3 linked regions of the Homo sapiens genome follow. The protein of the gene in region 1 interacts with the protein of each later gene in a pairwise test. Each region holds a gene or a part of one and is shown on either strand. Other genes may lie near its edges.

Region 1 (7,039 bases):
AGGTCAAAAATTCAAGGACTGTGGACTGTGCTCTTAAAGAATTCAGGCTTGTATTTCAAACTATCCTCTGCCACACAATGAACTTCATTCTTTCAAATACACCCACCCACCCACTCACCCCACACCCCTCACCCCCCCATACACACACAGCTTGAGGGACAACACAAAAGCCTGAAGACATAGACAGTAGAAACAACAGGGTCATTAAAAAAGGGAGGGCTCATGATGGTACAGGAACCTGCAGCGGGGGAACCCTCAAAATGGTCCTCTGAGCTTTTGCCCATTCAGTTCCACCTGCAAGCTGGACTTCCTCTCCCTCCTTTCCAGATTCCTGTCTACCCTTGAGGGTAGGGATCAGATACTACCTCCTCCAAGTAGATCTCTCCAACTATTTCACTACATTGAGGATCTCTCTCTTCTCTTAAATCCCATTATGTGGATTATCTGAATCTCTCATTTTAGTAGCAAGAAAGTATACATCAGACTCCCCAAAGACTAGACTTGGCCTCTCACTGAGTCCTCATACTGTTTTATATAGCTGCTATTCTAAAACGGCCTGACTAGGTGAATTAAAACTTTAAAGATTTTAAACTTTCAAATTAGACCATTTTAAGAATACCAGGGAATCAACCACTCTTTAAGTTCTAATTAGTGGAGTTATTGAAAGAGTTGGCAGAATAAGACTAAGAAGAGAGACTGGCCGTGTCTTAAATCACTGTGAGGATGACTTGCCAAACAAGACTACTTTGTATTTTTGGCTTGTGGTATCTGTCTCCAAACAGCACACACCATATCACACACTATTTATTATGGTCCTGAGCTGAACCATTCTTTTAGCAAACAAGTGAAAAGGAGAGGTACCAGGTATTTCCAGCTCTGTTCCACAGAAATGGAAATGTAAGTTAAAGCAGTGGTTTATTTAAGAGCTTGAGACACAGCAGTAGAAAAGCTGAACGTTCTAATGACCATCTTATCTTCTGAGGCCTGGGCTCTTAAACTAGGATGTGTGGCTCTTGTGGTTTCTCCACCTACTGCACCCACTGCAACCTCAGGACAATCAATTACAAGCAAACCAGAGTTTGGGGTGCAAGGGCAGTGCAGGCTCAAGGCACCCCATAGCCTCCTCATCTTTCAGGGAGGGGCCTGGCCAGAAAAGAGGGGCTTTATAAAGTGAGGGCAAGAATATAGTGTCCCTCAGCTTGCCAAGGTCTAAGGGTCCCAAATAGTCCCCAGAGTCTCAGGGCATACCTGGTTCATCTTCCTGGAGCATCAATAATACAAGACCTGGAGGATTATGTTTTATATTAAATAAGTGCAGATATGTTACAGAGTAAACTGTAAGAACCAAATAAATGTTTGCTCCTGCCACCTTTGGCCTCTGCTTCAGAATCCTAGAAATAAGGATTAACCCTCCTCTCCCATTGGGATAATTCAGTGGAAGTTTTTAGTCCATTCTCATACTGCTAATAAAGACATACCTGAGACTGGGTAATTTATAAAGAAAAGAGGTTTAATTGATTCACAGTTCAATATGGCTAAGAAGGCCTCAGGAAACTTACAGTCATGGTGGAAAGGGAAGCAAACACATCCTTCTTCACATGGCGGCAGCAAGAAGTGTGAGCAAAAGGGGGAAAGCCCCTTATAAAACCATCAGCTCTCATGAGAACTCACTCACTATCAGGAGAACAGCATGGGGATAACTGCCCCCATGATTCAATTACCTCCCACCAGGTCCCTCCCACAACACATGGGGATTATGAGCACTACAGTTCAAGATGAGACGGGTGGGGACACAAAACCTAACCATATCATTACACTCTTGGCCCCTCCCAAATCTCATATCCTCACATTTCAAAACACAATCATGCCTTCTCAACAGTTCCCCAAAGTCTTAACTCATTCCAGCATTAACTCAAAAGTCCAAGTCCAAAGTCTCACCTGAGACAAGGCAACTCCTGCCTATCAGTCTGTAAAATAAAAAACAAGTTAGTTACTTCCTAGATACAATGGGGGTACAGGCATTGGGTAAATACAACTGTTCCAAATGGGAGAAATTGGCCAAAACAAAGGGGCTACAGGCCCCATGCAAGTCTGAAATCCAATAAAGCAGTAATTAAATCTTAAAGCTCTGAAATAATCTCCTTTGGCTCTATATCTCACATTCAGGTCATGCTTATGCAAGAGGTGGGCTCCCATAGCCTTGGGCAGCTTCACCCCTGTGGCTTTGTAGGGTACAGCCCCCTCCTGGCGCCTTCACAGCTGGCATTGAGTGTCTGTGGCTTTTCCAGGTGCACGGGGCAAGCTATCAGTGGATCCACCATTCTGGCGACTGGAGGACAGTGGCCCTCTTCTCAGAACTCCACTAGGCAGTGCCCCACTGAAGACTGTGTGTGAGGGCTCTGACTCCACATTCCCTTTCTGCGTTGCCCTAACAGAGGTTCTCCATGAGGGCTCTGTCCCTGCAGCACACTTCTGGCTGGACATCCAGGCATTTCTATATATCCTCTGTAATCTAGGTGGAGGTTCCCAAACCTCAATTCTTGACCTCTGTTTACCCATAGGCTCAACACCAAATGGAAGCTGCCAAGGCTTGGGGCTTAAACCCTTTGAAACTACAGCCTGAGCTATACCTTGGCCCCTTTGTATGCCTTGGCCCCTTTTAGCCATGGCTGCAATGACTAGGATGCAGGGCACCAAGTCTCTAGACTGCACGCAGCAGGGGGGGCCTGAACCCAGCCCACAAAACCATTTTTTCTTCCTAGGCCTCCAGGCCATGGGTGGGAGGAGCTGCTACAAAGGTCTCCGACATGCCCTGGAGACATTTTCCCCTTTGTCTTGGCAATCAACATTTAGCTCCTTGTTACTTATGCAAATTTCTGCAGCTGGCTTGAATTTCTCCCAGAAAATGAGTTTTTCTTTTCTACCACATTGTCAGGTTGCAAATTTTCCAAAACTTTTATGCTCTGTCACCTCTTGAACACTTTGCTGCTTAGGAATTTCTTCTACCAGACACCCTAAATCATCTCTCTGATGATCCACAGATCTCTAGGGCAGGGTAAAATGTCACCAGTCTCTTTACTAAACCATAGCAAGAGTCACCTTTGCTCCAGTTACCAACAAATTCCTCATCTCTATCTGAGACCACCTCAGCCTGGACTTCATTGTCCATATCACTATCAGTATTTGGTCAAAGCCATTCAGCAAGTCTCTAGGAAGTTCCAAACTTTCCCACATTTTCCTGTCTTCTTCTGAGCCCTCTACATCTCCAGGAAATTCCAAACTTGCCCACATTTTCCTGTCTTCTTCTGAGCCTTCCAAACTGTTCCAACCTCTGCCCATTACCCAGTTCCAAAGTCGCTTCCACATTTTCTGGTATCTTTAATAGTAACTCCCCACTACCTCAGTACCAATTTATGGTGTTAGTCCATTCTCATGCTGCCAATAAAGACATACCTGAGACTGGGTAATTTACAAAGGAAAGAGGTTTAATTGACTCACAGCTCCGCAGGGCTAGGGAGGCCTCAGGAAACTTACAATCATGGCAGAAGGGGAAGCAAACACATCCTTCTTTACATAGCGGCAGCAAGGAGAAGTCAGAGTGAAGAGAGGGAAAGCCTCTTATGAAACCATCAGTCTCATGAAAACTCATGAAGGCAACCAACCCCCTGATTCAATTACCTCCCAGTGGGTCCCTCCCACGACACATGGGGATTATGGGAATTCAGTTCAAGATGAGATTTAGGCGGGGACACAGCCAAATCATATCACACTGGTAGGAATATGGTGTAGGTTTTATATTAGATAGTTGATCTTAAATTTGTTTCTTTCTCTCTCGTTTCTTTTTTTCCCCACAGAAGATAGAATTATATTTCCTGAAATAATCTATACAAAGGTTTGTAGAAAGACAGAAAACGTTTACAACCACATTCTCTCACTCAGCTCCTAATTTTTCTCTCTTGTTAAACCAGGCAACTTCAAAACTAATCCTTAAGAAGCCCCTCCCTCAGCCTGCTCTGCCTTCCAGTGATTGTTATTTTTGCTATTACCAAGAACATGCAAGAGGAAAACAAATGCACCTTGCAGGAGAATTATTTGAAGCTTACAAACTATTTTCACTTGAAGGGTTATGAAATTTTACTAACGTTCTCTAGTGAGGCAAAAATTACACAGGTCTTGATAACAGAAACACGAGCAACAATTAAACTCAGATTTTAACATATATAATTTTAGCATCTCATAAAGCTAGTCTCAACTTCTGCTTTTTTACTTCATATCTCAACAATACTATAAGGGACTGCAGAATCATGATTGCAAGGAAAATGCACAGTTTCCACCTCTCCAATAGGACTAAGCACTTCTCATACTCCAGTCAAGCAAAAAAATCACTTTGTACCCTGACATGAAGCAAAAATAACATGATCATCCTGCCTGAAAGTTGGTCTCCAAAATAAAACTTCAAACACATCTCATTCCCTTAAAGAAATAATTTTTTCCCTTGATTGTTTGCTATGCTGATGTCTGAAAACAAGTCACGACTTTTAGGAATAGATAATTGTGTAAGAAAGTTGTTTTTAGTCATGAACAACAGACTAATGTAAATGGAGAACTTTGGTAATTTGGTGGAATATTTTCTTTCAAGTATTTATTGTGATTTTATTTGATGAGCCAGTCTTATAAAGCCTGACTCCCTTGCACTCTGGGGAAGTAAACATTTTCTTTCCTTTTCTAACTGCTTCTGCCTCTAAGTCTTCCTTTGTCAAAAGTAAATGTAACAATAAACACAGATTGCTACTCTACTTAATTTTAACCCAAGCATATGTTACCTACTCTGAGCTAGCACAACTTGTGGGGCCTGCTCAAATGTCAACTGTATTTTGGTTTTCTATTGCGCCTCAAAATACACTCAAGGGATTCATCTTCCCTGCCCTCAAACAAATACTTGAGTAGATCCCATGATGTTTCTGCTCATGCAACAACTTCAAAGTCCCAAAAGAGGCCAGTCACAGTGGCTCACAATTGTAATCCTAGCACTTTGGGATGTGGAGGCAGGAGGATCACTTGAGCCCAGGAATGCAAGACCAGCCTGGGCAACATAGCAAAACCACGTCTCTACAAAAAAAGTTTTTTTAATTAGCTGGGCATGGTGTTCTGTGCCTGTAGTCCCAGCTACTTGAGAGACTGAGATGGGAGGATCACTTAAGCCCAAGAGGTTGAGGCTGCAGTGAGCTGTGATCATGCCACTGCACTCCAGCCTGGGCAACAGACAGAGTGAGACTTTGTCTCAAATGAATAAATAAATAAATAAGAAATATAAAAACCTAAAAGAATTAAAATGTCTAATCTTTGGAAACAAAAGAAACTCTGACCCATTATAACACAAATCTGCCCTATTTCTGCAATGTCCTGCTGCATGCTGGTCTCCTGCTGGGGTTGGGGGAAGGTAAACTTCTTTTCTATTTCTCCACCATCCACTCAACTGCTAGCTAGTTTCACATCACTCCAAGACCAAAGCAGGAGGAAAGGACTGAATTAACTATCTTCATACCTCACATGGGTGTGTTAGTAATACTCACCTTCCTTCAGCTGGCTGCTCATTCCTACTTCTGCTGCCAGGGGCCCTCGCCCTTAGGCCAGCCCTTCCTCCCATGTGGCCCCACCTGGCTCCCAGATCATCTTCAGACATCCTTTGCCCAACAAACTCTGGGAAGGTGAGTGATCCAGCCACCTAGGCCCCTGTGTGAGCCCCAAATGCAAGAAGCACATGGACAGCTCAACTCACCCTCAAATGGCCCCACTGAGAGGTGACAACATGCTAGCAGCCCTCGCTCACTCTCAGCACCTCCTCAGCAGTGTCTGCTCCGGCCATGCTTGAGGAGTCCTTCAGCACACCGCTGCACTGTGGGAGCCCCTCTCTGGGCTGGCCGAGGCTGGAGCTGGCTCCCTCTGCTTGCGGGGAGGTGTGGAGGGAGAGAGAGGGGCAGGAACCCGGGCTGGCCAGCGTGAGTTCTAGGTGGGCGCAGACTCAGTGGGCCCCACCAGCCCTGGGCAGTGAGGGGCTTAGCACCCAGGCCAGCAGCTGCAGAGGGGGCGCCAGGTCCCCCAGCACTGCCAGCCTGCCTGCGCCGCACTCAAATTCTCACCGGGCCTCAGCCGCCTCCCTGTGGGGCAGAGCTCAGGACCTGCAGCCCGCCATGCCAGAGCCCAGCCCCCCACCCCGTGGTGGGCTCCCGCACTGCCCGAGCCTCCCCAACGGGCGCCGCCCCCTGCTCCATGGCGCCTGGTCCCATCAACCGCCCAAGGGCTGAGGAGTGCAGGCTTGTGGCATGGGACTGGTGGGCAGCTCCGCCCATGGCCCTGGCGTGGGATCCACTAGGCAAAGCCAGCTGGGCTCCTGAATCAGGTGGGGACTTGGAGAACTTTTATGTCTAGTTGGAGGATTGTATATGCACCAATCAGCACTCTGTGTCTAGCTCGGGGTTCGTGGATGCACCAATCAGCACTCTGTATCTAGCTAATCTGGTGGGGACTTGGAGAACTTTTATGTCTAGCTAAAGGATTGTAAACACACCAGTCAGCACTCTGTGTCTAGCTCAAGGTTTGTAATCACACCAATCAACACTCTGTGTCTAGCTCAAGGTTTGTAAACGCAACAATCAGTGCTCTGTGTCTAGCTAATCTAGTGGGGACTTAGAGAACTTTTATGTCTAGCTGGAGGATTGTAAATACACCAATCAGCACTCTTTGTCTAGCTCGGGGTTCTTGGATGCACCAATCAGCCCTCTGTGTCTAGCTCAAGGTTTGTAAATGCACCAATCAGCACCCTGTGTCTAGCTCAAAGTTTGTAAATGCACCAATCAGTGCTCTGTGTCTAGTTAATCTAGTGGGGACTTGGAGAACTTTTTTGTCTAGCTGGAGGATTGTAAATACACCAATCAGCACTCTGTGTCTAGCTCAGGGATTGTAAATGCACTAATCAGCACCCTGTCAAAACGGACCAATCAGCTCTCTGTGAAACAGACCAATCAGTTCTCTGTAAAGT
Region 2 (7,149 bases), on another chromosome or scaffold:
GACAACTTATTTTTTTTTTCTTGCAAGGAATACTGAAGGTAGGAGTAACTAGGAAGCTTAAATAAACATAAATATAAAATGCTTATAGTGATAGAATTGACCTCAGCCAATTAAAATTATTAATAGAAAAAACATGTCAATGTCAAGCCTACTACCTCTGTTCTCACTTGAGTAATGAGGATTAGTTTATATTTCCCGACAAGAATAGATGGGAATTCAAATTTCTTCCTGACCTTTGTTCCCCCTGGAACATTGGGTTAGGATCATATTAGAACATAACCAAAAAGAAATAAAGATTCAGACGAATTCACAATTAATTTTTAAGCCCCACAAAAGTGAAATAGGTAGCATTATTTTTTCAAGCTGTGAAACTTTCCCTCATTTTAGTAATAGAGAAAATGTTCAGATTATAAACTTGGAAACTTTGCTCCTAACATATCAATTATGCCAGAGGCCAATTTTTAAGAAGAAGAGAAATGCATGCTCTATATTCTCAGCATCATCCTTGCCCACAATAGGGAAATAATTTTGTAAAATGTTTGATTTTAGACCTCCAAAATTATCTCTATATGCTACCTGAATTAAGCAAATAAAAAATAATATTTAGAATTCCATGCAAGGCACTGGTACAATTTTGTTTATCTTGGCTTCATTGTTTTTGAATGTAAGATGTACTTTTAAGGCAAATAAGTACATGTTTTAAGCTGGTCGCATACAGTATTGGCAATGCTATAATCACAAATCAGAAAGTTTGGAAATGCTTACAAGTGTTAAGAGGTGTGATTCATCATGGTTATCTGAATTGGCATCTGATCTTCTTTTCTTTCTAAATATCCCTGACATTTCTGACTCCTCTGTCTTTTCCTCAGTAAAACTGCACCACACACTGGAAAGCGAAGATACACACATTTATTTATATAATGTCAAGGGAGAGTAGGAATAAGAAGATTGGCCATAGACCCACCCAATCAGAGTCTGGGAAATGAGAACACTTTTTCCTTCAGCAGAAATGCTGACGTGCCAATGTGAATTTAGCAGAAAAAAGATTTGCCATAACTTCTAAGTGAGCAGCCTTCAGAATGCTAGCTTAGATTCCTGGCATTAACTTGCCAGGTATTTTTTCAGGAAGGAAATAAATTACAATTGAGCTTAAAAACCTGAGGGTAGAACTCATTTTCAAGCAAATGTGAAGCATCAGTTTGAAGTTAACAAAGTTAAAGTTTGGAGTAGGGTTCCTCCAGTCCTTTATAATGTAGTACAAGTATTTTTTTTAAATGTATAACACTAGCCTTTTAAATTGTATTGTGCTACTAAAAGAAATTGTGCCTGCATTCATCTTACAACCTGGGAACCAACGCAGAGGGTCTGTGGGGTAGCGGTATCCAGCTTCATGCCCTCTGTCCTTTATTGCTTTCTGGTTAGCCTGCGTATTTCACATACATTAAATATTCCACAATAAACTCTGCCATCTGTGCTGTAGGGTAGTTTGTATTGGTCATGTGCTCTGTCAAGTTGACAGAGGTGCAAAGCTAAATGTGTGACACTCGAAGAATATGCATATATTTGAATAATTTGACTATTTAGTCCAACAATTTGCAAAGGCGCTCTGAATGATCACACATTCTGATAACACTTCCAAGGAACAGATAGCTTCACTTAGGGGGTGGGGGAGATGGAAGCAGGGTTATTTCTAGCAGGAATTCTTGAGTTCACTGAAGTCTTGTCCCTGGTACTTCACTGTGTGAACGTGGGTAAATTATTTCCTGGCAGAGGATCGGATTCTTCTTTTATAAAACGGGTAAATAATTTCTGTCACTAGTCTTTAGAAGTTCTAAAATAGCTAATGTTAGTGAATTCATTTTGCTAACTGTAAACCCTTAGGTAAATTGAACTGAGTATGTAATAATATTATATATTCAGTTCAACAGCACATTCTTGGTAACCACAAGAGGGTCCAGGAAAGGAAACTGTTTATAAATCTTTCCCTTTAGCAAAATTAATGTTGGAGTCTTTAGGGAAATTCTTACAGCAATAGTCTTCGCAATTATTAGGTCAAACCCCTTTGAGATTACAGAAAAACGCACACACACAGAAAGCTGCCTGCAGAATTTGGGTGTGGGCTTGGTGGGAGATTCCTCTGATACCCAGTGTTGTACCCCCAAGAGAGTGTTTCTCAAAGTGTGACTTCAGATTGTCTGCATTCGAATTGCTTGTGGTATTTATTAAAATTATAACTCCTGGGCCCTGCCCCACCCCTACTAAATCACAATTTCAGGAGGAGGGACCTTCATTTTAACACTCACCCAGGTGATTTTTATGCTCCGAGGAGGTCCAGGGACTCCAAGTTAAGTACGGTACTGCTGTCTTATTCTTTATTCTAAATTTTAAGGTCTGCACAAATTGGTTGAACTAATGAGAAGAAAATTCAGCTTTAAAGCAGAAACACAGGTAGACGGTTGACAGAGTTCATCAAATGGATAATTGAAAATGTCCTCTGGACCCTAGCCATATAAGTTCTCTTCAAGGGTCTTGGCTACAGGCAAATGAGAACCCGAAAGGCTATTTGCTCTTTTGCTGCGGGCAGTGGTGGGGGTGGAGGGCGGGGGAGGATTAACTGAGCCAGTTCTGCCCCCACCCTCGAATCACCTACCCCCACTCTGGTTAAAGCAGAAGACTTTTTATTTATCTTGGCTGCCCTGGTTCGTTATTAAAAGGGTTAGCTTATACGTGTGTTTGCTGGGGCTGGAAGTGAAAACATCTGCAAAAGCATGCAATGCCCTGGAACGGAACTCTTCTAATAAAAGATGTATCATTTTAAATGCGCTGAATTTTGATTCTGGTAATTCGTGCACTAGAGTGTCTATTTCGAGGCAGCGGAGGTATCATATGACAGCGCACGTCAAGGCACCGTGGAGCCCTCTCGTGGACTCCCACCCACTTTCCCATTCACCGCGGAGAGGGCTGCTCTCGCTGCCGCTCCCCCCGGCGAACTAGCATGAAATCTCCCTGCCTCTGCCGAGATCAAATGGAGCTTCTCGCTGATGGGGTGCGAGTATTACCTCCGCCATGCAATTTCCACTATCAATAATTTAACTTCTTTGCTGCAGAACAGAAGGAGTACATACCGGGCACCAAAGACTCGCGCCCCCTCCCCCCTTTAATTAAGCGAAGGGAACGTGAAAAAATAATAGAGTGTGGGAGTTTTGGGGCCGAAGTCTTTCCCGGAGCAGCTGCCTTGATGGTTACTTTGACAAGTAGTGACTGAAAAGGTGGGTTTGTTTTCTTTCTTTCTCTTTCCGTTTTTCTGTTTGGTCGGCTAGAAAGCGTGTGGCTTTAGCGAGGTCTGTCATTGCCTGGGCTTCCTGGCTGGAACAAGTAACTTGGTGTAACGTTATCTGGGGGCGTTCATCAATAAAAAATGCTGTTATTATCTTGATTGAATTCCTATTAGGCAAACTCTAGAGAGGTCAGTGCGCGAACTCTGTTTAAGCCGGCGTGTTTAAGGCAGCAGAGTAAACCAATAGCCCCCATGCTCTGTGCGATTTCATTGTGTGCTCGCGTTCGCAAGCTCCGTAGTGCAGGAAGGTGCGGGAAGGTGTGTCTGTGGCCCGGGAAACGCACGCCCTCTCCCAGAGAACTTGGGTGCTGGGATGGGGAGGAAGGGGAGAGTTGAAAGCTAGGGGAGCGAGACCTCGGGGCGTGCGATTCTCACTCGCTCCCTCCCGCCCCAGCGCCCACAGCCGGGGTTTCTGCAGAGGGCGCGGGACGCGGGGTTCCCCGGGGCTGAGGCTGGGGCTGGAACACCCCTCGAAGCCGCGGGCGTCCTGTCCAAGGCGCCCCAGGAGGGCGCAGGACTCGCAGGGCGATGTCGCGGGGCCCTAGGGGAGGAGGTGAGGACAGGCCCCGGGGGAGCGGGGAGTTCCGGGCGCCCCTCGGTTCCCCGCGCGAGGAAAAGACGCGGCGTTCCCTTTAAGCGGCCGCCTCGAACGGGTATCGGTAGCGCGGGCGAGCGGGGAGCGGGGGGCGGGGGGCGGGGGGGGGGGGGCGGCGCCGTTTGACCAATCGAAGCTCAACCGAAGAGCTAAATAATGTCTGACCCGGGCGCAAGGCGCAGCCTGGAGCTCCGGGTCCCCGACGCTGCCGCCGCCGCGCCCGGGCGCACCCGCCCGCTCGCTGTCCCGCGCACCCCGTAGCGCCTCGGGCTCCCGGGCCGGACAGAGGAGCCAGCCCGGTGCGCCCCTCCACCTCCTGCTCGGGGGGCTTTAATGAGACACCCACCGCTGCTGTGGGGCCGGCGGGGAGCAGCACCGCGACGGGGACCGGGGCTGGGCGCTGGAGCCAGAATCGGAACCACGATGTGACTCCGCCGCCGGGGACCCGTGAGGTTTGTGTGGACCCCGAGGTAGGCAAGCGCTGGGAATGGGGCTTGGTGCAGGAGCTGCCCGTCCGCGGGAGAGAGTTGACTGGGGGATCCCCCACCCCAAAGTTGTGGGACGAGGCCAGTCTCCTTCTTTCCTCCCCTCCGGTAGAAGGGACGATTTGGAGTTACTCTTGGGGAGTTTTCTCCCCCATCCCACAACCCAGAAGGTCAGCCGGCACCACCAGGGAAAAAGGGACCCGGGGAAGTCACGAAGTAGAGGAGGGAAGGCCTGGAGGAGACCCAGAGCTGCGTGATGGGAGCAAAGACGGCGACCCGGGGATCCCTCGCAGCCCTCCCCCAGCCCAGGAGTAGTCGAGAGAGACTTAGGGGGCCAGAGCTGTCGAGGGTCCTGACTGAGGGGAGGGTGCTGGGGCTAGGCTAGGAATCCTTCCAGGGGGTGGGTGGTCCCCGCGCCGACTTGCGGGGGGAGTGGGAGGGAAGCTTGCGCCTTCAGCCCGCATCCCTTCCCCGGAGCTGCACACGGCTACCTGCTCCCCAGGAATTGAGACTGAAGTGGACTTACAAGTCCGAAGCCAATGTAGCTTGGAAAACTTGGGAGGCGGAATTCCTACCGCTGGGAACTGAAAGGGTCTGCGACACTCTCGGGCAGGCCGAACCCACATCTCTACCCATCCTGCGCCCCTCTTCTGAAGCGCCCTCCAGGGAAGTTAAGAGTTTTGACTTTCGGGGAGTGGTTGGGATGTACGTGGGGGATTCTTGACTCGGGTTAGTCTCTGGGGATGCAGAGCCGGGAAGAGGAATGGGTGAGTGAGTTACTCCTGGAAAGAAATAGCTGAGGATTGGGGGCTCTGTGCCTGACGGGCAAGAAGAAGGGGAGATTACAGACTAGGGGCATCCCTAAGGAAGAAGCCTCGGGGCTGCGAGGGTGAACTGGAGGATGCAGTGTTTGTGTGTTGGGGGTAGAGCGGGGATGAGGGACCGGGGTGGAGGGGAGGCGAGGAGGAGGAGGGGACCCAGAGAACGAAGCTAGGGAAGGTAGAGGGTGCCCTCTGCCGGCCATGCTGCCAAGAGCAGCTACTGGGGGCGGGAGGCTGGGGGTGGGGAAGTGGTAAAGGAAGGTTTTGCGGGATCCCTTAGAGAGCTGGTAGGAGGGACTTGTTGAATGGTGCTGCTGACTCCAGCTCGGTGGGGCGTGCGACTCGTCGTCGGTGGATTTTGACTCCTCGTTCTTGTTTGGCTTCTATGCAAGTTTTCCTCGCGCTGGGGGAGCTTTGATAAGCCTCGATTGGCGGTGTGTTAGGGCTTCTTGGATCTTATTTTAGGGTCCTCTAGTTATCCTGCACTTACTCCTTAATGTCAGTAGCAACCAAAGAACATTTTCCGACAAGCACGCAGGAATGTTCTTGGCCAGAAGCAAAGAAAGGCATATTTCTGAGTGTTTATTAATCCTCCTAGTAATCTTTTAAAGCAAAGTAATATGTAATTGGGAACGTTGATTTTCTAACTGCATATAAAAGGCGACATGATATTAAATGAGACCCCTCCCTACTGACTCAATATCCTGCAAAATCTCTCTCTCCCCTTTATTATTATGGAAAAATCTATTTTTATATGAGTTTGTTGTAAGGTCAAAAGCCATTTTGGTCTTACAATTTGATATGTCTTTACATTTTAACTTATTGAGGCATAATTACAGATTTAATTTGTATGAACGTGTGTGCCTTCAATGCTTATCTCATGCAACATAATTTTTAGGTTGGAGATTTCTGATGTTATGGCATGTAGCGTTTCAAGGCATTACACATAATAGGTAACATAGCATGTTGAAATTACACCACAAAGTTTTGACCCTGGGAACAGCACCTTTTAAAAACAATCACTAAACTCCTGTTCCTGTTTTCTGATTTTGCAAATGCCTTGCTTAAGACTTTTTTTTTTTTTTTTTTTTTTTTTTTTTTGGGAAATTTACCTCTGGGTTAGCAGGAGAGGTAAAAAAAAGGAAAGAGACACTTGTTGAAATGTAACCATAACCTTTACTGGAATTTAAAACATGTTGGTCACCATTACTGGAATTCCAGGGCCATAAAGTCGTTGTCTTTTTTTTCTTCTACTTCATTTTGTAAAATGTGATAAATGTTGGTAAATATAGACCAGTAGTAAGTATTATGACACTAAAAGCATTATGTATGTGGAACTATTTTAAGTTATTACAGAACATTTTCTATTTATAAATGATATAAGCAGAAAGAAATGATTTCCAGATAAACAAGGCTTACGTACATGTTTTGAAGCATTAGAACATTGCAGACACTCTTAGACATCACATTTTTTAAAGCAAAATAACAGTAATTTTTCACATACCTTTGGAGCCTTTCATAGCCCATTCAGAGCTGAGTTAGTAGCTGGAAGTTTCCTTTATTTTAAGGTGATATTTTAAAACCATTTAACATGTATAGTAGGTCAACATTGGTGCATCCAGAAAATGAAGCATTTAGGAAATCTGTTTCAGTGTCTTTTCAATGTGTGTAACTTTTACTTGCAAACCAATGGAACCAAGAAAGTCATCATTTGCCTAAAATGCAGTCATCACCTCAAATGATTCATTTATACTATGTGAGTTAATTGCCTTCATCTCATTAATGGCCAAGGAGGGAAGGGAGGTCCTGGGGTATTTCTTGTTCATTTTGACTCACCAGGAGGGAAAATCCTGTAAAAAAAGAAATGCAAATTTCTAAAATCCTGGCTCAAAGTCCGTGGGTTTCCTGTTT
Region 3 (3,756 bases), on another chromosome or scaffold:
GCTTTACATCATTTGCCCGCTCTGTACTTTGTGTTATTTGTGACTTCTCTTGTGCAAGCCACAGCGGTCTTGTCCCTATGAATCCCATCCTCTTCCCACCGGCTTCTCAGGGAACTCAAAGGCTGATGTGGAGACACAGAAACTGGGCAGTGTGACACCATATACAGCCACACCCCACTACACAGACAGTCTCAAGTGAAAGAGGGTGCCGCACACCCTTGAGTGCAAATATACTTGCACGCACACTCAGACTCCCTGTGTTCAGGGTCTGCAGACACCCGCCTTCCTTTCCTGCAACCTCCCCCTACTCACTTGCAGCCTGCCCTCGTTTTTTGTCACCCCACCCTGGAGTTGGAGACACTAAGAGCAGGGCTGGGTGCAAACACCTGGCAAAAAAATCACAGGATGGTCACGCAAACAGGAAATCACTCAAAAGATTCCAACGGGAGGCTCTGGGGGGGCTCCTTCCTTCCGCGGTTTCCTCCTTCATCGCCCAGGCCTCCTCCCTCTGTCCCCTGACAAAAAGTCACCGAGCCCAGTTCAAATCGATTGTTTTATTGACTGCATACAGACGCGTTTAGAAAAGGGCACGGGCTCCGGGGGGCTACTCCGTCCCAGGCCCGCGCTTGTGCTGCGCTTCGCGGAGAGGGCTGATCCCGAGGACTGAAACTCCCCCCACCCCAACCCCGACGCTTTCTTTCAAAATGGAAAAAAGAACCCCGCCCCGAGTCGCCGCGCCGCGCCCCTCCCCTTCCCTCCCTCCCCGCCCATCCGCCCCCCCGCCCGCCCCCCTACACTACACGGTCACACTTCACAGGACACAGACTTTTCTCCTACAGGGCACGCTTGTCAGGGACTACACGCCGGGCAAACACGATTCCCGCCGAAGCAGGGGCGGGTGGGGCGGGGCGACGCGAGGACCGAGACGCGAGGACGGAGGGGCTCGGCTCCATCCGGATCCCGTCGCACAGTCGCACAGTCACGAGCAGGCTTTGTGCGAACTAGGGCGCGAGCCCTCCAGAGAGCCGCGGCCCGGGAGGCCACAGTCAGCTTCCTCCGCCTCCGGCGCTTTCCAGCTAGGGTCTGGGTCGGGTGGAGCCGCGGGAGCGGCGCTGTTGGGCGCACAGACCTCCGGAAAGCCCAACACACGGACAACGAAATTGGCCCGCGACCAAGTCCACAGGCTCAGCCGCCAAGGGGCGCGCGGTCCTGCGGCGCTTTAAGTTAGGAGAGAGACGACAGAAAACGCATTCCCTCCCTACCCCCCGACACACACACTCGATTTTCCCAGAGGCTGGGAAGGGGGTGTTAGCACCAGACCCGAAATGTCGCTGTCTTTGAAAACAACGAAAACAGGAAAATCTGAGCGCGGAGCTGAAAGGCGCCCCAGGCACCGGGCTGGACTCCAACTGGCCAGAAGTGGGGTGGGGGTGGGAGGACAGAAGGATTTGGTTCCCTGCCGGCAGGAGGCTTTGGAACTAAAAACTAGGGGTTGCCACGAATCCCGGCTTCTGGGAGTAGGGATTGAAAGGGAGGAGGGGCCGGGCGCGGTGCCTCACGCCTGTAATCCCAGCACTTTGAGAGGCCGAGGCAGATGGATCACCTGAGGTCAAGAGATCCAGACCATCCTGGCCAACATGGTGAAACCCCGTCTCTACTAAAAATAGAAGAAATTAGCTGGTCGTGGTGGCGCGCGCCTGTAGTCCCAGCTACTAGGCAGGCTGAGGCAGGAGAATCGCTTGAACCCGGGAGGCGGAAGATGCAGTGAGCCGAGATCGCGCCACTGCACTCCAGCCTGGCGACAGACCAAGACTCCGTCAAAAAATAAATAAATAAATAAATAAAATTAAAAAATAAAAAAAAAGGAAAGAAAGAAAGGGAGGAGGAGGGGTCGAGGTGGGACCCCACAGCACTCCACTGGCCTTGGCTGGCCCCCGAAACCACCGCGTTACCGCGAGGTTTCCAAAGTCTTCGCTCGTTTCCTCTGGCTCCAGAGCCCACGGTGGGGCGGGCTGCGGGGTGGATTTCGCAGATAATCGCGACGGGAATGGAGGGACATAGATATCGCCCACCGTCTGCGGGTGGAGTCTTGCATGGGGTAAGATAAACACTGTGCTTGGCGGGGAAGGGGATTCAGCCCGCAGGGAGAATGGCAGCCGTGGGTAGCAGGGACTGGTGAAATCGGCCCACTCCCTAATAGAAGTCCCTGGTAGTCAAGGTTGGGGAGTAGTAAGGGGGAGGAGTAGGTGAAGGTTGGGGACGGGGGACATAAGTCCTGCCAGCCCTAGACTGCTGCTCCCAGGCACCCTAGGTGGAGGTCGGGAATGGGCGGGCCGGACGGGCGGAGGTTCAGCCTGCCGTCTGCCTGTAGTTGCCATTAATCTCCTGGGCGATGTTGACCGCCTCGGCGCCCAGGGGCAGCCGATCGCTGTACTCAGAGCCCGCCTCGAACTCCTCTTGGTTGGCCTTGGACTGGGACTCCACCAGTGAGCAGGCCGCCAGGCTCTCCTCTCTCTGCAGGTCCCCACTTGGGTCTCCCTGCTCCGCGTCTTCATCAAGGCCCTCCCCCTGCACGTCCTCTGGCTCCTCGCCGCCCGCCTCGCCGCCTGCCGGGTAGCTTTTCTCGGACTCGAGGTACGAAGCACGCGGGTCGAAGTCTGCGGCGATGCGCTTCTCCATAGGGTCAGGGGCCTGAGGCCGCAGGATCAGACGGTAGGGCTTGCCCGGGTGTTTAGCCAGCAGATGGCAGCAGGCGGCGCCCAGAAGGGGCACTGTGGCCAGCACCAGGAGGAATACGCTCACTGCCACTATGACCAGCAGCGATGGGAGCTCCTTCTTGGTGGAAAACACCACTTGCACGTGGCAGGCTTCGCCCGCCAGCGCCAGGCACACGGAGTAGTTGGTACCCGGCCGCAGGCCGCGGAACCAGTAGGCGTTGACGCCTTCCTCTACGCGGGACCACTGCACTGCCGCGCCGCCCCCCGCTGGACACAGATAGAGTAGGCGCAGGGGTCGCCGCCCGGGTCGCGGGGCTCCGCCAGCCCCGCCGGGCCCAGGGCCCCAGCGCGCAGCCAGCGGAGTCAGCTGCACCCGCGCCTCGCGCTCCGCCACATCCAGCGCGATGACGCCCAGCTCGAAGACGTGCGGCTTGAGCTCTGCGCTCTGGTTGAACGCGTGGTTAGAAACGTACCGAGAGGGGTCCCCGTTGCCACAGCGCTGCTCCTCCGCCGGGTCCGCGAGGATCTGGTCTTCGGCCTCCTCTCCCTCACTTGTGTCCTCCTCCGGCTCCGTCTCGGTCTCCCCGAGAATGCTGACCTTGGCCAGGCCTTGGCCTTTGATTTTGCCCTCGGGTTTGGAAGGCAGGACGCTGTTGCCCCGGCCCTTGGCTGTGGACTTGCGCTCAGAGGTCGGGGCCTGTCCGTCGGGTTCTCCCCCGGCGCCAGGCGCGTGTTTTGGGGGCCCGGTTGCTGCCACCGCCACGCGTATTGACGTAGAGTTGGCGCCCAGCTCATTGTGTGCACGGCAAGTGTAGACGCCCGCCTCCTTGGCACTCAGGAGGGGCACCAACAGGGAGCCATTTGCGAGGGCCAGGAAGCGCGGTGTGGCTGGGGGCGCCGGCCAAGCGGGTGCTGGAGTCGGCGTTTGGGCTTGGGTCTGCGTCAGCAAATCCCCATCTCCTTCTCCCTCTCCTTCCTCCGCCCCAACCCCGTCGTCCTCCCCGCTCAGAACCGGTGGCTCTAAGACTACGGTGCCACC

What was found. Proteins that work in one complex are often made in the same cells at the same time.
Region 2: the proteins of MRAP2 (region 1) and BDNF interact in binary tests that used the Homo sapiens proteins (3 or more experiments, as listed by UniProt).
Region 3: the proteins of MRAP2 (region 1) and ISLR2 interact in binary tests that used the Homo sapiens proteins (3 or more experiments, as listed by UniProt).

Annotation. Positions count from the first base shown.
Region 1 is NC_000006.12:84,036,750-84,043,788, reverse strand, and holds part of MRAP2 (melanocortin-2 receptor accessory protein 2), read right to left. Parts: intron 1-7,039. UniProt on the Homo sapiens protein: Modulator of melanocortin receptor 4 (MC4R), a receptor involved in energy homeostasis. Plays a central role in the control of energy homeostasis and body weight regulation by increasing ligand-sensitivity of MC4R and MC4R-mediated generation of cAMP.
Region 2 is NC_000011.10:27,697,417-27,704,565, reverse strand, and holds the start of BDNF (neurotrophic factor BDNF precursor form isoform a preproprotein), read left to right. Parts: upstream 1-4,110; 5' UTR 4,111-4,402; intron 4,403-4,898; exon of another isoform or gene 4,899-5,160; coding exon of another isoform or gene 5,161-5,184; intron 5,185-6,394; exon of another isoform or gene 6,395-7,088; intron 7,089-7,149. UniProt on the Homo sapiens protein: Important signaling molecule that activates signaling cascades downstream of NTRK2. During development, promotes the survival and differentiation of selected neuronal populations of the peripheral and central nervous systems.
Region 3 is NC_000015.10:74,133,586-74,137,341, reverse strand, and holds the end of ISLR2 (immunoglobulin superfamily containing leucine-rich repeat protein 2 precursor), read right to left. Parts: coding exon 2,350-3,756; 3' UTR 540-2,349; downstream 1-539. UniProt on the Homo sapiens protein: Required for axon extension during neural development.